Regions from separate parts of the Homo sapiens genome. Here all the other regions are linked to region 3. Evidence: fine-mapped expression QTL. A gene starts in region 3. Each other region holds a variant in brackets. All regions are shown on one strand. Distances are from middle to middle.

Region 1 (8,166 bases), 28 kb after region 3:
GGAGGCCTGGGTGTGTTGGGAAGCTGGTCTGAGGGAGTGGCCCTGCTGACCAGGGAGTGGCCAGAAGGATGGTGGGGAGGCAGGTGCAGGTGTCCTGGAGGTCACTGCAGACTGGCTCTGTTGACCCCTCGGTGGCCCCCTCTCCCAGCTGGCATGAGTCCGTTTCTGCACCTTGCTACCCATGGTCCCGGGGATGGAGGCTGCCTCCTGTGCACCCACCGGCCTCTCTGTTTTCGGTTTCTCCCAGCTGGGGAGCAAGAGCATTTTCTCTTAGTTTCTTAGTAAAACTCCCTTCCCTTCCCAAAGTCTGTTCTCACTTCTGCTGAAGGCGGGTGGGGAAGGGAACTGAAGACTGAAGGGAGCCAGAGGTCACTGGGGAGCTGGCTGGCTGCCCAGGCCCTGGGCTGCTGGCAGCCTCTTGCCTGGAGGCCAGGGAAACTCACTCTTTTTCTCCACGTGGTGGTGTTCAGGGGAACCTTGAGTTAAGGCAGCTCATGAGGAGCTCTTCCTCTTCCCAGTCTGTGGGGAAGCTGGGGTCAGAGAGCGAAGGCAGACTCATGGGCCATTTTCCCCAGGCCTTGGGGGACCCAAACATCTCTCCTGCACCCCTCCGCCCCCAGGAATCACTTGTGCACCGGTCTGGCTGACCAGTTCTCTGGGCTGCGCTGCCCCTCTGTCCAGACTGCAGAGTAAGCCAGGACACAGCAGCCACGCCTCCAAGGTCACCCCCAGGTCACCCTGTGTGGAGTTTGGGGGCCCCCAAAAGCTCTCTAGCCACCCGCTTCAGGCTGATGTTCTGTGATTTTTGCTCGCAGAGGCCACTGTCCTCTGTAACAAATGCTCTTCCCAGCGTCTCCGCGTTTCCTCCCCCATACTGTGTCCCCAGAAAGGTCCTGCGGGTGGGACTCTGCTCTGGGCTGCCCTGGCCAGGATAGCGGGGTTGCAGGGGCACAGAAAGACAGGGCAGTCTCTCAGGGCTGGGCAGGGGAGGGCCCAGGAGTCCCCAAGGCTGGGGGTGGCTGGGACACCCCACCTAGGTGGGCTCTCCCACCTGGTGAGACCTTTACTGCATCTATTGCAATAAGCCCCAGAGAGTCCCTCCCTGCCCGGCAGGACTTCTAAGCTCCTGGCAGAGCCCCTTGTTAGGTCATGGCCCCCAGCTCCGTCATCTACAGAAAGTCATCCTAGCCCACGGCACCCGCTGCCAGAGCACCGGTTCCGTCTTCGCACTGGCCCCGTGTGCCCTGCATCCCAGTCTAGAGGCCTCAGATTTCCAGCTTCCCAGCCTCCACCGTGGCCCCTTTACCACATCTTTGCTCAGGCCCCCTCTCTGCCCTCAGCTCCTGTCCAAAGCCTCCCTTTCTCCAAGGTCCTGCCTGTCACTGGCTCCAAGAGCCCTCCTGTGGGAAGAAGCCCATCGCTCGAGGCCCCCTGGGCTGTCTTCCTGGGTGGTCCTGATCACAGGGGGCCCCAGGTCCACTCCCCATCATCTCCCATTTGGCTCCTTCAGGCCAGTGACCACATTGTAATAGGAGCCGCCACTGCACTTCTAGGTCCCCATGGGGACACTTCAAAAGTCACTGTATGGGCCGAGTTTGGTGGATTACACATGTAATCTCAGCACCTTGGGGGGACGAGGCAGGTGGATCACCTGAGGTCAGGAGTTAGAGACCAGCCTGGCCAACATGGTGAAACCCCATCTCTACTAAAAATACAAAAAATTAGCCGGGTGTGGTGTCGGGCACCTGTAGTCCCAGCTACTCGGGAGGCTGAGGCAGGAGGATGGCTTGAACCTGTGAGGCAGAGGTTGCAGTGAGCCAAGATCTTGCCACTGCACTCCAGCCTGGGCAACAGAAAGAGACTCTGTCCCCACCCCCCAAAAAAAAAAAAAACACACACACAAAAAGTCATTGCTCATTTAATCTTGGAGGCCACTTGGAGGAGCATGGCGTCTTTGTCTCGCCCTGGGTGAGCACACCGAGGCCCAGAGTTTGATGATTCCTTCAAGGTCTCAAAGCTTGCCTTCTTCACAGCGCTTGGTGATGCACGTGGTTGTTTCTCAGTATGGTTTGCCAAAGGGATGCTCTGATTCAGGAGGCTGAGGTGGGGCCTGGGAATGTTCATTTCTAACCTTTTCCCAGGTGATGCTGAGGCCACTGGTCCAGGGGCCACCTTTGGCCCTAAGCCGCTAATTAACAACATGAGTCACTTTCATCTGGTCCAGGCTTGTCGCCCCCTCGATGGAACACAGAGCTCCCTCTTTCCCTCTTGGCCTCATCACCAGCCCCCAGAACAGGACCCAGCACTAGCAGCACTGAATCGTGTTTGTTGGTGAACTGATGCGTCGTGATGCTGGGTGAGACAAGGACGGCCGTGGGAGAGGCGGAACTGGCCAAGTCTTTGATGACCATGTGAAGAAGCCCCCAGCCCTGAGGGCGAGAGGCCAGAGCCTCCCTGATGCTGAGTCCAGACCAGGAGTCCAGCCAGGAGCTGGTCACTGGTGGAGCTAGAGGCTTTTCAAGTGCATCCTGGGACTTCTGACCTTCCCTCCTGACAGTTCTCATCCCCAGCTGCCGGTGAGTCACCTGGGAGCTTCGAAAAGTCCCGATGCCCTGGCTGCTGGCCACACCCAGCCCAACCACATCAGAGTCGCTGGGCTGTGGCCAGCTTGTAGCAGCTACTCAGGTGTTCTCCAAGGATGAGAACCACAGATTTAGTCACTGCAGCATGGCAGGGGTGGGGGTGGGAGAACAGGAGGCTTGGAAAAGGAAACTCGAACAGGCTCAAGAATATCAGACACAGCCTTGGGAGGGGGGCCGGGCCCTGCCCTTGTGGCCAGCTGCCTCACCTGCCTGGGCCCCCGCCCGCTGCTCACGATGCAGGCCCGTACATACCACTAAGGCCCAGGCGGTGCGGGTACCTTCACCCCACGGATCCGCAAGCTTGGCTCAACCAGGGAGCCATGAAGCAGGCTGGGAGAACACGGCTCTGCAGGAAGCCAGGGCTCTGCTGAGTTTCACAAGGCAGCTCTGTGGACGTGAGGCTGCTAGGTTAGAAGACTGGACGGAGAGGATTCCCGCCAGGGAGAGGCTGACCCAGCACGCTCTCACCAGGCTTCAGTCAGCCCCTCAGTCAGGGCCAGGAGCCGCCACTAAGCCCCACACTGGGGCAGTGTGGCTCTGGAGCCCGAGTGCCTGGGTTCAAATCCCAGCTCTGGCCCTGGCTGACGCTGTGGCCTCGACTGTCTCAGGTGAAGGAAGAGTAACAGGAAGGGATGATGCAGGCAGTTTGCAGCTGGAACACAGAGCAGGGCCCCAGGCAGGCTTGCTCTAACTGTGGCCAGCTCTTTCCTTCCTTAGGAAGTGGTTCCCGGACTCTTCTGAAGGCACTTCCATCAGTAAACAACTTCTGAGCATTCCCAATAGATGTATGTGTATAAATTGCACTCATGGCTCTAAAACAAATCAGCAGAACACATTCTAGAAAAAATCGCATTCAAGAGATACTATACTAATAGATTATGTATATTATAAAAAACACAATAAAAAATAGACATTTTAAAGGGATGAGATTAAAATATAGAAAGAAAATTCCCATATGTTTTTCCTGCTGCCGCTGGGGTTGTGTGTCCATCTTTGGGGACCTCTGAGGGAGGCCCTGGAGCCACTGAGAGGGGCGGTGGTCGCCAGGGGTCTGGAAGATGGAGTAAGGAGGCCTGAAGGGGCCCCAGGGAGGCTTCGGGGAGGCAGGGGTAGGGGTTACAGCTCCGCGCCGCTGGGGAAGCGGAATCTGCGGGCGGAGGCCGGGGCACCGTGCTGTCCAGGGCAAGGGGAACGCAGTCCCGCGGCATCCACGACGGAGGGGCCCGGCCGCGGGGCCTGGTGGCCCGGGGAGCCAGGGCATGGGCATCCGGGGCAGAAGGACTGCGGGCGCGAAGCTTGGGAGGCAGGGTACTTGGGGCCCGGAGAGTCGCTCGGGCCTGGCTCCGGCAGCAGTCGCGACAGGTCCTCCACCAGGTGCCACTTCTCCTGAACCTGCTGTGAGGAGAACAAGTGGCGAGTTGCGACAGGCGCTGCTTCCCACGAGCGGGTGTGAGGACAGCAGCGGCAGCAACTCTGCGGCCCATGGGCCAGCCCGCACCCAAAGTAGCCAGAGGCCACGCCCCGCCCGAGGCCACGCCCCGCTCGAGGCCACACCCTCCCAGGGCCACGCCCCACCAGGGTCCCGCCCCGATGCAGCCCTAGACCACGCCCTCAGGAGTCCCGTCCACAACGCAGCCAGATGCCACTCCTTCCACGTCCCCGCCCGAGACCACGACCTCCAAGGGCCCCGCCCCCAACGCACCCTGAGACCACGCCCCACTAGGGTCCCACCCCATGCAGATCTAGACCACGCCCGCTAAGAGTCCGTCCCCAAGCAGCCCAAGGCCACGCCCCCGGTAGAGGCCCCACCCTGAGGCCACGCCTTAGCCAGGTCACTGTTCCTCCCTCAGCTCCATTAAGCCCCTGGCCCCAAGCCTAAAGTCGTAATTTTTTTTTTTTTTT[G/TG]TGGAAACTGGGTGTCTCCCTGTTGCCCAGGCAGGATTGCAGTAGCAAGACCACAGCCCACTGCAGCCTGGACCTCTCAGGCTCAAGCGATCTTCCCACCTCAGCCTCCGGAATAGCTGTGACCACAGGCACGCGCCACCACGCCCAGCTCATTTATTTGATTTTTAGTAGAGACGAGGTCTTGCTATGTTGCTCAGCCTGGTCTCAAACTCCTGAACTCAAGCACTCTTCACGCCTCGGCGTGAGCCACTGCACTCAGCCATGTTATCCTTTTTTCCTTTTTTGAGACGGAGTTTTGCTCTTGTTGCCCAGGCTGGAGTGCAATGGGGCGGTCTCAGCTCACTGCAACCTCCGCCCCTCCGCCTCCTGAGTTTAAACGATTCTCCTGCCTCAGCCTCCCTAGTAGCTGGGATTACAGGCGCCCACCATCACGCCCAGCTAATTTTTTGTATTTTTAGTACAGACGGGGTTTCACTATGTTGGCCAGGCTGGTCTTGAACCCCTGACCTCAGGCAATCCACTCACCTCGGCCTCCCAAAGTGCTGGATTACAGGCACGAACCACCGTGCCCGGTTTTTTTTTTTTTTTTTTTTTTTTTAAGTAGAGACGGGGTTTCGCTATTTTGGCCAGGCTGGTCTTGAACTCCTGACCTCAGGTGATCCACCCACCTCGGCCTCTGAAAGTGCTGGGATTACAGGCGTGAGTCACCACGCCCGGCCACATTCTCCTTTTAAAAAATTAATTACTTATTTTTGGTGGAGACCAGGGTCTTGCTTTGTTGCCCAGGCTGGTTTTAACTCATGGCTTCAAGTGATCCGATCCTCCTGCCTGGGCCTCCAAAGCGTTGGGATTACAGGCAAAGGCCCAGCCCCTAAGGTCATGTACTTACCAGGTCTGGCTCCTGGTCTCAGGAGCCCGAGCTGTTCTCTTCCTCCCCTTCCCCGTCTTCACTCTCAGCCTGAGGCCACGCCCTCCAGTGGGAAGAACCCACCTGACCCGCTCAGACGTGTTCTAGGCCCTCGGCCACACATAGGGAAGGGTTTCCACTGAAGCTGCTGTCCCCTCACCAGCCCCGAGGACACTCACCCACACCAGCTGCTTCCGGAGCCTGTGGATGGCCCTGGCATTGGCCTGGGTCTGGGAGACGCACACCGTCAGGACAAGGCTTGGGTGGGAAGGGGATTCGTGGTCAGTTGCCCCTGGGGCCACAGGCGCCTCTCCCTGACTTCCTCTCTCCCCACCTCAATCTCTACAATACGCGGTACTGGGGTCTTCTCACTGCACACTGCTGTATCTGAGGATGGGACCCTCCTCTCCTTCCTCGCAGAGCCCCTCATCCCCTCCCCTCTGGCACAGCAATACCAATAGCTCAGCAGCTGCAGCCACCCAGACACGGTGCTTCCCCAGTGATCCTGCAATCCCCATGGCAGCCCAGAGGGTGGGCCCAGGAGGTTCCTGCTTTTCAGAGGCCCCTGCTTCCCTTGGCTTTCTGCGTCTGGCTCCTGGTTGGGGGTGCACAGGCTCACCACCCCCATGGAAGGAAGGACCTCCCCCTCCAGGTGTCCCCTCCCATGGCCCCGGCTGCCCTGAGAACCTGAGCATGATGAGGAGGGGGAAGCTGAAGGCGTGGGAGCCCAGGTAGTGGAGGGCACGCTGGCCAATGGGCGGGAGCCCAAGGGCCACCAGCTCCGGGACCACTTGCCAGGGTGCTGAGTAGTTGGTGAAGAGGCCGCAGTCCCAGGAGGAGTGGATGCTGGCGAGAGATGGCCAAGTGGGGCTGGCATCAGGGTCCTGGGTGAGAAACTGCCCCTGCCAGCCTCTGGGTGCCCCCCTCCTCTTCCCCTCACCTGCTGACCACATAGCCCAGGGGCACTGCAGCCAGAAGCAGGCCCAGGAGGAGCACTAGCTGGAAGAAGAAGGTGGAGCTGGAGGCACGGAAGGGCCGCGAAGATGCCCTGGAGTTCTTCAGGAGGGTGTACTGGGGGCGCAAGCAATAGCAACCAGGAGTCAGCGAGTTATGCAGACCCCAGGGGGCTGACACCCAGGGAAGGGGGCAGGAGCAGGAGCAGGAGGCGAGCCCAGCTCAAGGCATCCACCCAGAGGCACGAACCCCATACCCCCCAGCCATGAGCCGTCACCTTCTTGATGTAGAAGGTGAGGAAGAGGAAGACGCTATTCAGCAGGGGCAGCAGGGGGCAGTAGAAGAGGCCCATCCAGGTGACCGTCTGCCCCGCCACGATGTCCAGCACATTCTTGGGGACCAGGAACTCCTCCCGTTCCAGCCAGGCCCAGAACCGGCCTGAGAACCGGTCCACCAGCAGCCTGCAGGGATGGGAGGGTCCAGGTACTCACCACTCCAGACAGATGCGTGGGCTGTATTGGTCATGGCCACAGCCTGCCACTTACTCCCGGGCTCCACACTGGACCCGCTCACCCTTGGCTGTAGCCACTGGCCACCCCCAACATGCTCGCGGCACCCCCGCCCTTCTGGAGGTGTCACCCCGGGGCTCACCTCCGAGGCAGGGTGACCAGGAAGGCGAAGGCCACGGTGAGGAGGAAGTTGAAGATACTCAGCTTGTACAGCTCCTCCCCCACGGAGTTCTCCCAGCACTGGGGTGCAGGGGAAGGGGACCCGTCACCACTCACGGCCACCCCGGCCCTTCCTTCCCTTAGCCTCCTGTGAGGGTTTCTGTGGTGCAGGTGCCTTGCCTGGTGTCTGATAGAATCGTTAGGTTGAAACCCAGGCCTTGAGGATGGGATTAGAGCAGGAAGCCCCACAGCCAGGGCAGCCACACTACACCATGTGGCAGCAGTGGCGCCCCCTGGAGGTGTGCGGCGGTGCAGGCAGCCCTGCTCACAGCTTCTCTCAAAGGTGACTAAAGGGGCAGGAACAGGGCTCTGCACAGTTTGAGGTGAGCTTTTTGGGGAGAAGGAAGGGAGGGACAGGCCCCGCCGGGCTGCCAGCCACCTGATAGTCACAAACGTTGTAGCCGTAGGACTCACAGCTGCTCTTGTCTCTGCCAATGCACAGTATGGTCTGACCCAGGGAGACGGAGAACATCCCCAAGCTGGCCAGCTTCAGCACCACGCACCTGGGGGCAGGGACCTTGTCAGGTGGAGGGGCCCAGGCACATGGGCACCGGGCTCTACCCAGGCTATAGGTGTGGCTGATGTCCGAGTGGGATCATGTTGTGTCCTGGGCCCAGCCTCCTTCCAACCTGCTCTGTCTGTGGCAATGTGGTCCAAAGTGCGTTCTCAGAGTCCGAGTCTCCAGGCGATTCATGGGAAAAAGGGTTCTGTGTTTTCGTTTTGTTTCAAGACCGAGTCTCACTCTGTCACCCAGGCAGGAGTTCAGTGTTGTGACCTCGGCTCACTGCCACCTCTGCCTCCTGGGTTCAAGCGATTTCTGACTAAATTTTGTATTTTGAGTACAGACAGGGTTTCGCCATGTTGGCCAGGCTGGTCTCGAACTCCTGACCTCAGGTGATCCACCCGCCTTGGCCTCCCAAAGTGCTGGGATTACAGGTGTGGGCCACGGCGCCTGGCCAAGGGTTCTGTTTTTAGATCAGTTTGAGAAACACTGCACAGTCCAGCCATGTTCCCTCATGCCTGGTGTGGAGAG
Region 2 (8,160 bases), 41 kb after region 3:
GCGGGCCCTTCCGTCCCCTCTGCGCCGGCGTCGGGGCCTGGGCTCCTGCAGCCCTAGGGTTCACTTGCCCGGGTCTGCCGCTCTGCCACCTCCGGGGCTCAGAAATGAGAGAGAATCCTGCTGCGGTCGAATTCGGGCCCAGCCCCGCTCCAACTCTCAGAGGGACACACAGCCACGGCCTCAGTCTCCCCATCTGTCAAATGGGGTGAAAGATCCAAAGGGCACAGAAAGTCTGGACCGGCACAGGCAAAGAAAGCCAAGACCTGCTGCACCCCGCATCCACCTGTGCCTGGGCCCACCGTCACCCCAAGGAGAGACAATTCCCTCTCTTCTCCACGTGGCAGTTTGCCCTTCCGGAAGAGCCTGTGTCCCAAACCCCACAGTTCCTGGGACTCGGCATCTGCCACATCTGACTCTGGATGTCGGGGGACCCCCTTCTGTCTTCCTTCTTGTGGTCCAGCCTCCAGTCCCAGGTACCCCGCGAGCCCCTGATGAGGACCTGTGGCTACAGCCCCAGCCGTGGGGACAGGAGCAGGGACCCACTGCTACCCTTGCAGGGCTCTAGCTGGCCCCCACAGCCCCTCACCCTCTGCATTCTCCCTCCACTGGACATCCAGCTCACCTGGGGACCTAGGGACCAAGTCCCTGGAGGAGTCCCCTTCTCAGACGACTCCTGCCAAGCCAGGCAGGGTGGTGAGGGAGCCCAGAGGAGGGGTCATATGACAGGAAACCCAGCTTCCCTCTCCACTACCTCCCTCCTCCCCTCTCACCCCATGGTTTCCTCTGCTTTAAACTGAGGCCAAGCAGGCACTTCCTGTGGGCCCCTGAGATGCAGAGGTGAAGGTGACAGGCGTAGGCCACTTGGCCTCCCAGGGAGCTCTGTGCATGCTGGGCTGCGGGTGGCCCACCCTTCCCCTCTGCACAGGAGTCAGGGCCTGGTCTCCTGCAGCCCTAGGGTCCACTGGTCCGGGTCTGCCGCCTGGCTGCCTCCAGGGATGTCCAGCCTGCAGCTGAGGCCCTCTCTGTTCAACTCCTTCCAGCCTGGATAGGCAGGACTTGACCTCGAGGCCTGAGCTGGGAGCCTGACATGGGTGGGGATGGGAACGGTGGGGGCACAGGGGCCAAACTCTTTATCTGCCGGCCTCACCCTGGAGGGTGTGATAATGACAGGATGGTGGGCTCCCCAGAACCTGGCTGCTGGGTTTCCAGATACTCTTGGTGTTACTGCTGTACTTCCAGCCCCTGTCATTGGCGTTATGGTTGTGCCAAGACCCAGGCCTAGCACCTGGCCGGTAGTAAGTGCTCAGGAATTGGCTCCATTCATGCTCTCCCAGGCTAGATGTTTAAGACATATCTTTGCCAATTCTCTGTCCTTGGGCCCCTGGGAAGCCCGCAGCCCTTCCTCTCTGCTCCCTCTCTACCTGCTATAGGGCCCAGTCATCTCAGGTCTGAATGTTCATAGCTTTTCTGCCTCTCTGCCCACCTCCTTCCTGGTTTCCAGAGTCCTTTCTGTGTGTCAGGCGCAAGCTATGTGCTGGTGCTGGGCACACAGTGGGCTGGGGTAGGAGGGGGCACAGAACCACAGATGTACATGTCAATAGGAAGTGGTAGGTGCTCCACCAGGGTTCAATCTGGGGAGGCTCCCCAGAGGAGGTGGCATTCATGCAAATTCAGTGTGGGTATGCAGGGAGGGGGAAGCAGTGGGAGGAGAGGCAGGGGCTGGGTCTCCATGCCAGGGTGCCACTTGCCAAGAACCAGCTTGGGGTAGCCATCTGAGGACCACACTGGCAGCTCCAAAAGGCCCCAGCCTTGACCCCTGCCTGGTCCTCGCTTTTGCTTGCCTGCTCTCCCCTGCAGCAGTGCCCTCTCCTGCCCTCCTGGGCCCCAGCTCACATTCACCCTGCCTGCTTCATGGCTTCTCCCCGCCAGGAATGACCCTCCCTTCCAAATGGGCTTGGGGTGGGGGGTACAATCTCAAAGGCAGTTTCCTCCATAGAGTTCCCAGGTGGACCACTAAGTCTCCTGCTTTGGCTGGGGGCACCCTAAAGGGTGATTAACTTCTCTCAGCCTCAGTTTCCTCATCTGTGAAATGGGAATATCAGTGCATACCTTCCTGGCTCATGGGGAATAACAGAAAACAGGGCAACGGGTACAGCACCTGGGGACAGTCACCTAAGTGTCAGCGTGTCCTCCTTTTCATCCCCTCCTCTCCACACAGCACACAGGAAGTGAGCCAGAACTCTTGCTAGATAAACAATGAACCCCGCCCAGGTGTCAGGAGTGGGAGATAACCAGGCTCCCCCCGCCGGGGTCGGGGAGAGTCAGCAGGAGGCTTGCGGGGGCGGCGGGGGGGGGGGCGCTGCCCAATCTGGAGTGAGATACTCTGTGTCCCTGGGGCTTTCGGCGGCATCTTACTTGGACGATCCCTAACCATGGGAAGCAGATGAGTCTGGAAATATTGCCCCTTTTTGGAACTTGGGGAAACTGAGCGTCAGAAAAATTGGGGACTTCAACCAGGGGCTGGAATGAATCCAGCCCAGCTCAGACCTCAGGAGGAGGGGTCGGAAGTTGGCAGGGGAGGAAGGCATAGTCGCCGCGGGGCGCCCGGAGGAGGGCGGGGGCGCCGCGGGCCGGGCCGGGTCACGTGATAGCCGAGGCCCGCCCCCCCCCCCCCCGCCCACGTGGGCCGGGAGGTGCGGCTACTCCCCCGGCCCCGGCAGACCTGCGACTGGCCCAGTCGCCCCTGGGGCCCTTTGCCACTCCCTTGGCAAGGAGAGCCGAGACCTCAGTTCCCGGCGGCTCTTGCGGGGCACAGGTGAGCCCTGGCTGCGCGCGCGGCCCCTCCTCCCCGGCGCCTCCCAGGTGAGCGGCCGCGATCCCGGTCCCGGGTCCCGCCAGCCCCAGCTGCTTCTCCTATGCGGGGACAGCGGCAATCCCCCCTGAATTCCTTTCGGCCTCTGGGGCCATTTGGCAGCCGAGTTCCCTCCCCGGGTGCTCCTGGAGCTCCCAGGGCTTGACCCTCCGGCTCGGACAGAGCTGGGAGCGGCAGGGGCGGGGAGGACAGTGCGGGGAGCAAAATCCGCAGCCCCCACCCAGGTCCCCCAGCCGAGCGCCAGGGCACGGGGAGGGGAGGGGAGGGGGTGTGGCCGGGATGGGAAGGGGCGGGGGACAGGGAGGCCGGCTGGACGGGTTCGGTGGCCCCAGAGTTGCAGCCGCTCTGGGCTCTGGGGCCAGGTTGCGGTTCTCCCTGGGTAGCGGCTGCTCCCGGGAAGCTCGCTGCCGGCTGGGGTGGGGGTTCCTGGAAACGGGCGCCACCCAGCCTCTCCCCACCTAGCTCAGGAATGGTGCGCCTGGAAACTCCGCTGGACTTGCCTGGGCCTCGGGGCGGAGTGCTGGGGCGCTGGGTGCCCGAGTCCCCGGGTTCCCTGAGCTTAGAAGGGCCTGTCTGGAGGAAGGGATTCCAGCTCTAGGGACTGGGTGGGGCGTCCTCAGCCCCTCTTTCGGCAGCTGTCCCGTGTTAGGCTGGGTGGGGCCGCCTCGGACCCAGCTCTGGGCTGGTTTTCCCACGTCTTTGCTCCTGCTGGAGGGAGGGGGTGGTGTGGGGCCTGGGCCCGAAGATGGCACCCAGGACACTGAGGGAGGGCGCCGTCCGGTCCTGTGACTGGCACCCCTGCAAGGAGCTGCTCTGTCGGGGCGCCCCCGGGCTTTGCCTGTCCGAGGAAAGCGCCCTTCAACCCGGCCGACTTTGAGCCCTGAGTTCCTGAGGGTGAGCGCAGGAGGAGTCCAGGGCAGAGGCCGGCAGGACTCGCTGGTGGCTGGGAGCTGAGTCCTGGCTCCACTCTCACAGATGAACGGGCCCCGAGCCCAGGGCCCCAGACAAGGCTGCTCTGGTTCCAGTTGTGCCGGGTGACGGCAGAGCCAGGACAAAGGAGGCCTGTTGAGGTCCTGGCCACCCCCAGCCGGCCGCCCTGGGATGATGGAATGCAGGGCAGTGGGTCTTCTGAGAACATGAGGACCTTGGCGCCC[T/C]GACGGCGGTGGCATGGAGTGACCTCTGTGTGTGGGGGAGGAGCCCCCTGTGCTGCTTCCGCCTGGGGCTGGTTGGGGGTGAGGGCTCCAGCAGCTAATTTCCTGCTAGAGGAAGTTCTTTGAGGTCACAGGGCAGACGCAGAGAAGGCCTACAGCCTACTCTGACCTTTCTCTCCAAAAAGGAGGTGTCTCTGTGCCAGAACCCTGGGCATGGAGATCCTGAAAGGGGCTGTGTCTACAGGCACCCTACCTCTTCCCCATTTCCCAGGGACTGGCGACATCGAGGAAACAGATGTGGAACTGCAGACCCCACACCCTTCCTTCCTCTCTCCCCTCCCCTGACACTGGAGGGGGCCCCCCATTCCATTCTGGCATGAGGCTTATTCGGTGCCTCACCATTTATGTACCTGGGGTGATAGGGGGGTGGGCGGGACTGTCTGGGCTGTGAGTGGCACCTCCTGTGGTTCCCCCAGGAATGGGTGGTGTGGACAGCTGCCAGGCGTTGAAGACCACCCCTGGCTCTGTGCCCCTGTCTCATCAGATGGGGGCTCCGGAGGTGGCGCCCAGGCTCTGAGCTACCCTAGGTCTGCAGACTAGCGGGCATTGGCCAGAGACATGGCCCAGCCACTGGCCTTCATCCTCGATGTCCCTGAGACCCCAGGGGACCAGGGGTAAGCGCTCTGGGGCTGGGGGCTGGAGGCTGGAATGTTCCACCCCCCACGGAGAGGTCACCTGAGCAGGGGCTGCTGGAAGGAGAGAGGTGGCTGGAGCCTGACCCCCCCGCCAACCCCCTCTGCAGCCAGGGCCCCAGCCCCTATGATGAAAGCGAAGTGCACGACTCCTTCCAGCAGCTCATCCAGGAGCAGAGCCAGTGCACGGCCCAGGAGGGGCTGGAGCTGCAGCAGAGAGAGCGGGAGGTGACAGGTGAGCTCAGGCCTGGATGCTGGGTGGTGTGGACCAAGACTTGGGTGCCCCAGCCCCTCAGGACGGGCCTCCCAGCTCTGCAGGCCTGGGATGGGGTGGGAGATACTGTGGCCAATGGCATCTCCAGGACCCCTGGTGAGTCTTTCTTGCTTTGTAGGAAGTAGCCAGCAGACACTCTGGCGGCCCGAGGGCACCCAGAGCACGGCCACACTCCGCATCCTGGCCAGCATGCCCAGCCGCACCATTGGTGAGTGGGACCCTCAGCCTCGGCCTCGGCCCCGGCCCCGAGTTGACCCCAGTCCCTGGGGCTGGGCTGGGCTTCCTGCCAGGCATCTCCCTGGGTAGTGGCTGCTCCCGTAGCTCAGAGCCAGGCCCAGGGCGGGCTCCTAGCCCATCCCATCTGCTGCCTGGGGGCCCAGCACAGCCCCATGTGGCCCTCGCTGGGCTCCAAAAATGACTCCAGAGTCATCACGGGGTAAAAATAGGCTTTCGGAATGCAGTGGTGCCTGAAGTCTTTGTTGAAAGGATTTTCCTGGGTCCTGGGAAGGGGTGAGGGACGCAGAGGCCTGTGGTGAGCCCATCCTGAGGGGAGGGAGGCCTGGCCCTGCCCGGCCCGGCCCTGCCCAGCTGCCTCCATAGGCCGCAGCCGAGGTGCCATCATCTCCCAGTACTACAACCGCACGGTGCAGCTTCGGTGCAGGAGCAGCCGGCCCCTGCTCGGGAACTTTGTCCGCTCCGCCTGGCCCAGCCTCCGCCTGTACGACCTGGAGCTGGACCCCACGGCCCTGGAGGAGGAGGGTGAGTGAGTGGGCACTGGAGCCCCAGTGGCGGACACCGGCCTGGGGTGGGGTGCAAGAGGCCAGCCTGGCCTGGGCGGTGGCTGGGGTGCTGCAGAGCCAGAGGCCCCTCTCCTATCCCTTAGCAGGCTGCCTGAAGGCCCCCCCGTCCCTCTGCAGGGACCCACGGGGACAGGGAAGTGGGGGTCTTACCTCACAAGCGCCTTGGAGTGCTTGGAGGGCTGTGGCCCTGGGCCCCGAGTCGGGGACCGTGCGTGGGAAACAGGCCCCTGTGCTCTGTGAGCTTCCTGCTTGTCGCTGACTGAAGCAAACACACGGCTGATTGGCGACTGAAGCTCAAATAAGGGCACCGAGGTGTCTCGGGACGGTGCCGCAGGGACACACAGGCCTGACCAGGGTCCCGGCTTCGGGCTGCAGGGAGGGGCACTTGGGGATGGGCAGGACCTCCCTCTCCCTCTCGCAGAGAAGCAGAGCCTCCTGGTGAAGGAGCTCCAGAGCCTGGCAGTGGCACAGCGGGACCACATGCTTCGCGGGATGCCCTTAAGCCTGGCTGAGAAACGCAGCCTGCGGTGAGCAGCCCCGACCCTGACCATGCCGCCGCTGCTGCGCCCCCAGACCCACTTCCTCAGCTGGGCTAGGTGGTGGGGGAGAAGGGGCTGAGCCCGTGGGTGGCCGGTCTCCAGGAAGGAGAGAGTCAGGCCCCTCATTGGTCCAGGCACCTATGGCTGCCTCTGTCCCCAGAGAGAAGAGCAGGACCCCGAGGGGGAAGTGGAGGGGCCAGCCGGGCAGCGGCGGGGTCTGCTCCTGCTGTGGCCGGCTCAGATATGCCTGCGTGCTGGTATGGGCCCCTGGTCTGCCCTGGGGCTGGGGCGGCTGGGCAGGGCTGGGGTGGCCTCAGTGCCTCCTCCGGCCTCACCCTCAGGGCCTCTCTGCCTGTGCCCGCAGGCCTTGCACAGCCTGGGCCTGGCGCTGCTCTCCGCCCTGCAGGCCCTGATGCCGTGGCGCTACGCCCTGAAGCGCATCGGGGGCCAGTTCGGCTCCAGCGTGCTCTCCTACTTCCTCTTTCTCAAGACCCTGCTGGCTTTCAATGCCCTCCTGCTGCTGCTGCTGGTGGCCTTCATCATGGGCCCTCAGGTCGCCTTCCCACCCGCCCTGCCGGGCCCTGCCCCCGTCTGCACAGGCCTGGAGCTCCTCACAGGCGCGGTGAGGAAGCCCTAGGACTGGGGGACGGGGGGTGCCTGTCTTCTGCTACCCTGGTACCGTGTTCCCTTCTTGTCCCAGCTCCCCTGGGGCCCCCAACCCTTGCCCCGCTGTGACTCCAGGTGGCCACAGCCAGCTCCCCGCCTCCCCCTCAATGACCCTGGATGCTCATCGTGCTGGGGTTCCCATGGGGCTGGAGGCCCAAGATTGCTGTGGCCAAGGCCCCTCCCTGTTTCCCTCACTGCCCCTGCCTGGCCTCCTCCTGCTCTGCCCCTGTGGCTGTCAGGCCTGAGGGTCGGGTGGGGCGTGGGGAAAGTCCCTGACTCGGCTGGATCTCCCTGTGGCAGGGTTGCTTCACCCACACCGTCATGTACTACGGCCACTACAGTAACGCCACGCTGAACCAGCCGTGTGGCAGCCCCCTGGATGGCAGCCAGTGCACACCCAGGGTGGGTGGCCTGCCCTACAACATGCCCCTGGCCTACCTCTCCACTGTGGGCGTGAGCTTCTTTATCACCTGCATCACCCTGGTGTACAGGTAATGCCTCCACCTCATGACCCAGGCTCCGAGCTCCACTCATCCATCCATTCATCTTTCGACCCATTCATTGATTCTTCCCTCTTCCTTTCTTCCTTCTGTCCATCTACCTGTCTGCTCTCATCCACTCACCTATCCAACTATCCACTTACCCACCCATCTACCCATCCATCTACCTACCCACCCATCCACCCATTCATCCATCCACCCACCCATCCACCCACTCAATTCACCCACCCATTTACCCATTCAGCCATCCACCTACCTATCTACCCACTCAATTCACCCCCCCATCCACCCACTCAATTCACCCACCCATCCATCTACCCACCCATTCACCCAATCAGTTCACCCACCCATCCACCCATCCACCCATTCATCCATTCACCCACCCATCCATCCATTCACACATTCACCCATTCACCCATCCACCCACCCATCCACCCATTCATCCATCTACCCACCCATCCATCCACTCAGTTTAACCCACCCATCCACCCATTCATCCATCCACCCACTCATTCATCCACGCATCCATCCATTCGCACATCCATCCACCTCCTTATCTATCCACCCATTCATCCACCCATCCGTTCATCCATCCACCCATCCACCCACACATTTATTCATCCATCCATCCACCCATCCACCCATGCATCTACGTATTCCACAAAC
Region 3 (8,134 bases):
AATACACTCGGCACAGACAGAGTCTGGGAGCCATGGGGCACCCCTGCCCTCCCCAGGCTTCCTAAGTAACAACTGCAGAATATTTACATAAAGCTGGGTGTTGTCAGGCAAAGCCCTTCCCTGCTGCCAGGGGTGGGAGCAAGGAGGAAGTGCCATGAGCACCAGCCCCGCCCTCACACCACGGGAGGCAGCCCAGAGGCCACCGGCACAGGGTGGTGGCCCCCAGATCATACAGCAGTGGGCACAGGGGAAGCAAACCTGAGTGAGGACACAAGAGCCTGGTCCGGCTCCGCTGCACAGGGCAGGTGTGATGGCCCCCACGAGTCTTTGGCAGAGAACGCAGATAATAGCGGCTCCCACGGCCTGACCCGGGCCGGGGGGAAGCTGAGGCACTTGTCAGTAGCACATGGGCACCTGCTGGCTTCTAGCCACTGCAGGCGGGGCTGAGGTCATTAAAAGCGAGGAAAAACACTAGCTAAAAACCCTTTCCTAAAAGTGCCCTGGAGGAGTGAGCGGCTGACTGAAGCCCTCTGGGCACAGGCACTTGGGGTGTGGCTCTGCCAGCCCCCGCCAGGCTATGAGGCTCCTTAGCTGTGTGTCAGCTGCACAGGATGGAACAGGTGAAAGAGAGGGGCTGGCAGTTCCAGGAGGCTCATGGGAAAGTCCAGGGCAGAGGGGAGGGCCCTCTCTGTCCCCCTTCCCACGCTAACCGCCGCTCAGTACACAGGGGGCGGCTGGTAGCCCTCGGTGGTCTCCGCGTTCTGGGTGAAGGGTGGCTGTTGGTAGTTGTCCACAGATGCACCTGGGTAGGAGGCGTAGGCAGTGTTGGGGTCCGGAGTGGGGTCAACGTAATTCTGGATGAAGTCGTCCACGCCAGCCTTGTAGCGCTGGTAGGCCAGGGAGGCCAGCACACCCTGCAGGGGGAGCACAGCAGGGTACAGGTGGGTGGGGGACCCCACCCTCCACCACCCTTGACCCAAGAACCGGCCCCTGGCCATCCTACCCAGGAGAAGATGGAAAAGAAGCTGAAGGTGATGGCTGCCCTCACAGAGTCGGCCCCCACCAGCACGTCCTTCGGGTTGGTGACTGCCCACTGGTTGGTGAGGAAGCAGAAACCAACAAACCACAGGAAGGTCCAGAGAGCTGGGGGAGGACGGGTGAAGCGTCAGTTCCATGGAAAGGGAGGGGCTTTCCAGGACTCTGGGAGGGGACGCGGGCAGGTAGGGCAGGGACCTCCCGGGGGAGCCTCCACACTATGGAGGGGAGGACTTGGAAGCCGGGCCGGGAGCCACCTCCAAAGTCCCCCACACTCGGGCCTTGGCAGGGTGGGCCACAGCAGACAGCCTAGGGGACAAAAGGGGCAGAGGCAAAGCCCATCTGCTCGGGTGTGCTGCAGGTCCACTCAGCTTCTAGCTACCCCAGGCAGGGCTGGTGCCATTCAAGCACGGAAAAACACTAGCTGAAAACCCTTTCCTAAAAATGCCCTGGAGGAGTGAGCTGCTCCCTGCCCCTCCCAGAGAGGCCGAGACCCTCCCAGCTGCGGAACCCTAGAGTTAATGCCTCCCCCAAGATCAAATGGAGGTGCCACAGGCAGATACCTGAGAAGAGCAGGTCACCAATGACCAGGTACTTGCGGTCAGTGGCGTTGCTGATCTGGGGGAAATACGCGTCGACCACCAAGAAGAAGGCCGAGGCCAGGAAGGCCAGCACCCCGATGGCACTGCCATAGCGGCAGGCATCCTCGTTGCGGTTGAACACGCAGTACATCTGCTTAGACTCGTGGGCATTGCTGTAGCCCTCACCATAGATGCAGGAGAACACGATCAAGGCGAAGACCTGCCGGGAGGGGAGGACCTGGTAGGGCTGGTGGCCGCCTGAGGGGCACACACAGCGGGGACCCTGATGGGGTGTACAGATGCTGGCCTCTCCCACTACTGCTGTCCCCTTTTGGGTTTTTGTTGTTGTTTGAGATGGAGTCTTGCTCTTGTTGCCCAGGCTGGAGTGCAATAGTGCGATCTCGGCTCACTGCATCCTCTGCCTCCTGGGTTCAAGCAATTCTGCCTCAGCCTCCCTAGTAGCTGGGATTACAGGTGCCCTCCACCACACCCGTATTTTTAGTAGAGATAGGGTTTCACCATGTTGGCCAGGCTGGTCTGGAACTCCTGACCTCAGGTGATCCACCCTCCTCGGCCTCCCAAAGTGCTGGGATTACAGGCATGAGCCACCTCGCCCAGCCTGCTGTCCCCTTTTGGAGGCTGACATCTTAGCCCCTCCAAACTTGTGGAGGTGAGCTGATGAGCAAAGTGCTTCCTGATGCACCCCAGGATGAGAATCTGCAGGCACCAGGGGGCCTGCCCCTGGGAATCCTGGACCGGGGAGGGGTGGGGAATGGGCAGGGACCTCCTAGGCAGGGGCTGCTCCTGCCCCATCGGCCTGCTGCAGGAATCATTCTGCTTAGGTACCTGATGGATGAAGGGCAGTCCTTCCATCCCCAGCCCAACCTCACCTTGAAAGAGGTTTAACCAAGACAGGCCAAGTCACAAAGACTACCCATCCCCCGTCACCTTCAGCCCAAGTCACTTCTACAGCACCCAGCCTCTGCCTGAACACCTTGGTGAAGGTGGACAGGCCCTCTTGGGAAGGCCATGCTGGCGCCCCTGTGTCTTCACCTCCTGGAACCCCTGGAACCCTCCCTGGTTCAGCCTGGCCAGCTGTCTCCACACAAGGACTTGCAGCCTCTGTGGCATCCTGGTCCCTCCCAGTCTGTCTCCCACCCCACAGAGGGCCCTGCATGCACAGGGCACTACAAGGGGACTAACTCAGGCCTGTGGATACAGCTCTGAACTCAGACACCTGGAGGACCCAGGGTGGATGTAGGGGAGCTCCAGCCCCTTGGGAAGAGCCCCATACCACCTCCCTAAACTTGAAGGCCACCACCCACGCCTGCTCCACCTCAGCAGGTGTGGGACAGGTCTGTGAGCATCAGGATCCCTCTGGGATGGCCCCAGGACTCTCCCCTGCCAGTCCTGCCCTGTTGTCCCAGGGAGCTCTCCATAGGGCTCTGGAGCTGGCAGTCACAGGCCCCGCCCCCAGATGGAGATGAAGCCGGATCTCCGGGATGATGGGAGCAGGGTGCCCATCCAGGACTCCTGGCACTGCCATCCCGACCCACTGGGCACCTGATTCTTGGACACAGCCCAGGACAGAGGCGATCAGATCCCACAGCCTGGCTGGGAGCTGGTGTGGGCGCCCTGGAGGACCTCAGAAGCTCCAGGCCCAGGCATGGTCTGGGCACAGCAGGCCCACCTCTGCCTGCCCCCTCATGCCACCCCCTCCAGCTTTCAGGGCTGGCTGTCCAAGAACAGGCCCCCTCCCCGCCACACACACACACACACAAAACCTGGTTTTGGAGGTATTGCCCACCTTACAGGGAGGGGGTACATCTTGGGGTCCCTCAACTTCGGGTGGGAAGGCGGACCCGTGGCCTGCCCCGAGTGGGAAGGACACCCTGTTTCCGGGCGTTGGGTCGCCCCCCGCCCCCTCCCTTACCCCACGTGGCTTCGGAAAACCCCGTCCCGGTGAACTCCCCAATCTGGGAGTCGCGGCGTGCGGGCCACCTGTCCGGGAGCCGCCCCCAAACTCCTCCCACTGCCAGCGAGGCAGGGGCCCGCTCCCTGCGGAGATCCGGACACCCCGCGTCGGGGCGCGAGGCTGGGGGTGGGGTGGGTGGCGGGACCCGGGACCGGGAGGGGACAGCGGGACAGACTGTGGAGGGCGGGAAGGCGGGGCCCGGGACGCTGGACGCCGGCCCCGCTCGCCGCCAGGCCCCGGACGCGGCCGCCGCCACCTGTCGCGCTCGTGGGCTAGGGGCCCCGCCGGGCCTGGCGACGGAGAGGGGGTCCCCAGGGTGCCCTCGGCCCGCCCTCCCCGGGCTCACCAAGCACACGGCGCGCGCCACCACCTGCGGCTGCGTCAGGAAGCGCCGCAGGTCGAAGGAGCCGCCCGCCTTGGCCGCGCCGTAGGCCCCGCTCTCCATGTCGCCGTCGCCGCCGCTGCCGCCGCCGCGGAACGCAGAGGAACCTGCCCGGCGCCCCGCCCGACTCCACCCGCCGGGGGCGTGGCCAGGCGCCGCTAGGGACCGAGGGCAAAGTGCGGCCCTCGCGAGCGGCGGGCGAGCCGCGGGACTGCGCTTCTAGAGGCGGGGAGGGGCTGTGGCCGCGGAGCACCCGGGTCCACCCCACCTCGGGGTTGAGGGGCTAGTCTCCGGGCCACGCCGGCCGCAGCACGGACCAGAAAGGGTCAGAGAGTCCCCCGGGAAGACGGACGAACTGAGGACCGCTCACCCTCTTTGCCCCTGCCCTCCCACCGCCTCCTCTAGGAAGCCCACCACCTACCAAGAACCCACCCAGGCTCATAAGCAACCCCTCCCCCATCCCACTGAAAAACCCAGGCCACACCCTGGAGCCCCTCCCTGCCTGGCCTGCCACTCTTTCCTCCTCTCTGGGGCTAAGCCTGGGGTAGGGTCAAAGACCCCCTCCCCATTCCTCCTGGTCTGGGCAGAGCCCCAAGGCTGTGAAGGGCAGTGTGGCGTCACACTTAAGATGGTGTGCAAGGCCGGGAGCGGTGGCTCACACCTGTAATCCCAGCACTTTGGGAGGCCGAGGCGGTTGGATCACCTGAGGTCAGGAGTTCGAGACCAGCCTGACCAACATGGAGAAACCCCGTCTCTACTAAAAATACAAAAATTAGCCTGGTGTGGTGGTGCATGCCTGTAATCCCAGCTACTCGGGAGGCTGAGGCAGGAGAATCGCTTGAACCTGGGAGGTGGAGGTTGCGGTGAGCCGAGATTGTGCCATTGCACTCCAGCCTGGGCAACAAGAGCAAAACTCTGTGTCAAAAAAAAAAAAAAAAAAAAAAAAAAAGATGGTGTGCAAGGCCGGGCGCAGTGGCTCACACCTGTAATCCCAGCACTTTGGGAGGCCGAGGCGGTTGGATCACCTGAGGTCAGGAGTTTGAGACCAGCCTGGCCAACATGGTGAAACCCCGTCTCTACTAAAAATACAACAACAACAAAAAAATTAGCTGGGCGTTGTGGTAAGCGCCTGTAATCCCAGCTACTTGGGAGGCTGAGGCAGGATAATTGCTTGAAACCGGTAGGCAGAGGTGGCCGTGTGCTGAGATCGAGCCACTACACCCCAGCCTGGGCAACAGAGCAAGAGTCCATCTCAAAACAAACAAAACAAACAAACAAACAAACAAACAAACAAAACCAAAAACGAAAGTTAGCGAGGCGTGGTGGCAGCTACTAGCAGTCCCAGCTATTCCAGAGGCTGAGGTGGGAGAATTGTCTGAGCCCAGGAGGCGGAGTTTGCAGTGAACCAAGATCACGCCTTTGCACCCCAGCCTGGGTGACAGAGTAAGACCACATATCGGCCGGGCGTGGTGGCTCACGCCTGTAATTCCAGCACTTTGGGAGGCTGAAGCAGGCGGATCACGAGGTCAGGAGATCGAGAACACCCTGGCCAACATGGTGAAACCCCGTCTCCACTAAAAATACAAAAATTAGCTGGGCATGGTGGCGCGTGCCTGTAGTCCCAGCTACTTGGCAGGCTGAGGCAGGAGAATCGCTTGAACCCGGGAGGCGGAGGTTGCAGTGAGCCGAGATTGCACCATTGCGACAGAGCGAGACTCCATCTCAAAAAAAAAAAAAAAGAAAAGACCACATATAAAAAAATATATATATGGCATGCAAACAGAAATGAAGTTTTCAGGGCGACAGGCAGATGGCAAAGTTTAATCCAGTTCCAGTTCAGCCCCCTCTCGCCTCCGTCCCTCTCTACCTCCATCCCAAGAAAAACCGGTACAGAGGGTCTGGTGCAGGGTAGGCTGGGGCAGGCTCTGTGTGTGTTGGAGTGGGGAGCGGAGGTTGTACAGACAGAGGTGTGGGATCACAGGCTGACTGAACCCGGAAGAATTCCAGACCCCCCTTTGCTAGTTGCAGGTGCAGATTAACAACAGCAGGTGTGCCAGGTGGGGCTCACAGTCAACCCAGGTGAGCTGGACCACGTGAGAGTTGAACCATAGGACTGGGCCACCAGGAGGTGGGGTGCCTCTCCAGGGAAGAGGGGAGCAGGTGGGGGGGAGGGGCTGGGCCTTTTCGCAGTGTGCCCCCCTCCCTCTCCCTACACCCAGAGAGATGTGACAGCACCTGAGAGGCGAGGACAGGGCCACACAGACCCCCTTATTTCTGTGACCCTCCTGAAGCCCTCACACCAACAGTGTCTGTGTTTGCTGAAGGCCACCAGCACTCCAAGAATCCCAGCTGGCAGGCTTTTTTCTTTTTTTTAAATAAATGTTTTTGTGTATATTTAAGGTAGACAACCTGATATGATGGGATTCATATAGATAATATAGATAGCACAAAGGTTCCTATAGCGAAGCAAGTTAACATATCCACCATCTCTCATAGTTACCCTTTTTTTTTTTTTTTTTTTTTTGTGGCAAGAGCAGCTAAAACACACTCATTTTGCATGAACTCCAAATACGAACAGTGCACGCTGATGGCCTGCAGTCCTCTGCCGTGCTTGGCTCTCTGGACGGTTCATTCTACATGGCTGCTGCTTTGCGTCCTCTGACCTCCCCATTCCCTATCCTGAACCCCCCAAACTCCTCTTCACTCAGACGGCGGGTGCTCCTGTAGAGCGGCAAGGCAAGGATGGGGCTCTCCAGGGGACCCTGCCAGTCCTCCATCTTCTGGTCACCACCTTGACAAAGCAGTGGAGACTCAAGTCAGGCAGGCTCACCTCCCAGCCATCCCCTCCCGAGGCGTCTGAGAGTGTTCGTTTGTTTTGAGACGGAGTTTTGCTCTTTTTGTCCAGGCTGGAGTGCAATGGCACGATCTCGGCTCACTGCAACCTCCACCTCCTGGGTTCAAGTGATTCTCCTGCCTCAGTCTCCCGAGTAGCTGGGACTACAGGTGCGCACCACCACGCCCGGCTAATTTTGTATTTTTAGTAGAGACGGGGTTTCTTCATGTTGGCCAGGCTGGTCTCGAACTCCTGACCTCAGGTGATTCGCCTGCCTCAGCCTCCCAAAGTGCTGAGATTCCAGGCATGAGCCACTGTGCCCGGCCTGCCTCTGGGAGTTTTATGGTGCCAAGCACATCAGTGCCCCAGCAGAAGAGACATGAGGCTTACTCACCCCACTAAATGAAGGCTGTACCCCATTTTACAGAAGGAAAAACTGAGGCTCGGCGAGGTGACATGGCTCACCCACGAGTCTGGCTTCTGGAAAGAACAGACTTGGTAGAAGTGAGATGGGAAAGTGCCAAGGACAGACTCCTGGTAGAGCCACGTAAGGGCCTGGGCCACGGGCAGAGGATGAGAACCAGGACACGGCAGTGTCTCCCAAACAAAGAGAGATGAGTTCACAGAGGCAGGGCTGGCCACCACCAAAGCCAGACAGGCAGAGCACACAGGCCTGTGGTGCCTGCACTCAGACACTACAAAGGCCTTGGTCACTTTACATGTTAGTAAAGCCATGGCCTTGGAGAGGGGACCCTGGGAGGCTGGGCCCCAGGCTCTTGCCACCACCTCGGAAAGACTGCCCAAGGTGGTTCTCACAGAAGGCAGGAGCTCCTGGTCCACCTTGGTCTCCTGGAGGCATCATCCCTGCAATCCCTGCTCAGACCCCATAAAGAACTTAGGAGACTGCCCTCCCAGAGGCCAGCAGACTGTGTTACAGGGCACCTGGGAGCACTGGTCAGGGTCCGATAACGCCTTGAATGTGTAAGCCTCAGTAGGCACATGGCACACAGTAGGTCCTCATAAACACCTTCGAGTCATGCGTAAGCGGTGATGGCCGCTCTTTGCCCTGGCCACAGCCCTGCCCTGCAAGCCCCACCACCTGAGCTCTGCAGCCAGGGCCCGGTTGGACCTCTCAGGCCATCAGCAGCTCTCCCTCCTCCCTGCATCGAGCACCCATTTCCTACCTGGCCCACGTGGTCCAGCCCAGCATCCTGGAGGTGATGGCCGCAGTGGAGGCAAGGCTGCCAACCAGCACGATGGTGGGTGCCCTGGGCAACCCTCCTGGGAGGGGGCGGAGGCAGCTGGGTTGGGCTTCCTTTAGGCAGGGG

Alleles and levels. Alleles are on the strand shown, and positions count from the first base shown. SD is a standard deviation of normalised expression in the study named. Not every link is listed here.
In carriers of allele TG in region 1, the expression in monocytes after LPS of the gene that starts at base 4,072 in region 3 tends to be lower than with G alone (large effect, 0.83 SD a copy in Fairfax 2014).

Evidence for each region. PIP is the estimated chance that this variant, and not a neighbour inherited with it, causes the effect.
Region 1: its variant is the best candidate, but not a certain one, in a credible set for the expression of SYNGR2 in monocytes after LPS (Fairfax 2014, PIP 0.85).
Region 2: its variant is the best candidate, but not a certain one, in a credible set for the expression of SYNGR2 in whole blood (INTERVAL, PIP 0.84).

Annotation. Positions count from the first base shown.
Region 1 is chr17:78,136,705-78,144,870 of GRCh38, reverse strand. TMC8 (transmembrane channel like 8) reads right to left here. Exons shown (of 16, transcript NM_152468.5): 10 at 7,513-7,636; 11 at 7,057-7,154; 12 at 6,683-6,866; 13 at 6,392-6,522; 14 at 6,139-6,297; 15 at 5,631-5,709; 16 at 1,903-4,037. The coding sequence ends at 3,759. Among named protein-coding and RNA genes, the nearest start is that of C17orf99, 5.6 kb to the left of the region's middle. RefSeq lists silencers at 911-980, 2,249-2,543, 4,065-4,254 and enhancers at 2,536-2,615, 2,258-3,457, 5,094-5,733, 5,848-6,017, 6,568-6,737 and 4 more. The variant G/TG (reference allele first, on the strand shown) is at 4,545.
Region 2 is chr17:78,123,314-78,131,473 of GRCh38, reverse strand. It overlaps TMC6 (transmembrane channel like 6), which reads left to right and starts at 2,719. Exons shown (of 20, transcript NM_001127198.5): 1 at 2,719-2,862; 2 at 4,568-4,697; 3 at 4,826-4,950; 4 at 5,108-5,197; 5 at 5,590-5,748; 6 at 6,211-6,316; 7 at 6,489-6,585; 8 at 6,693-6,950; 9 at 7,295-7,485. The coding sequence starts at 4,642. TMC8 (transmembrane channel like 8) reads right to left here and starts at 703. Exons shown (of 16, transcript NM_152468.5): 1 at 623-703; 2 at 1-193. RefSeq lists silencers at 1-15, 2,626-3,155, 4,426-4,505, 4,556-4,605, 6,436-6,685 and enhancers at 496-625, 3,836-4,085. The variant T/C (reference allele first, on the strand shown) is at 4,027.
Region 3 is chr17:78,164,519-78,172,652 of GRCh38, reverse strand. SYNGR2 (synaptogyrin 2) reads right to left here and starts at 4,072. Exons shown (of 4, transcript NM_004710.7): 1 at 3,938-4,072; 2 at 1,599-1,836; 3 at 1,004-1,143; 4 at 1-914. The coding sequence starts at 4,036. The coding sequence ends at 717. C17orf99 (chromosome 17 open reading frame 99) reads right to left here. Exons shown (of 5, transcript NM_001163075.2): 5 at 6,356-6,764. The coding sequence ends at 6,607. RefSeq lists enhancers at 711-780, 8,092-8,134 and silencers at 3,610-3,769, 3,800-4,409.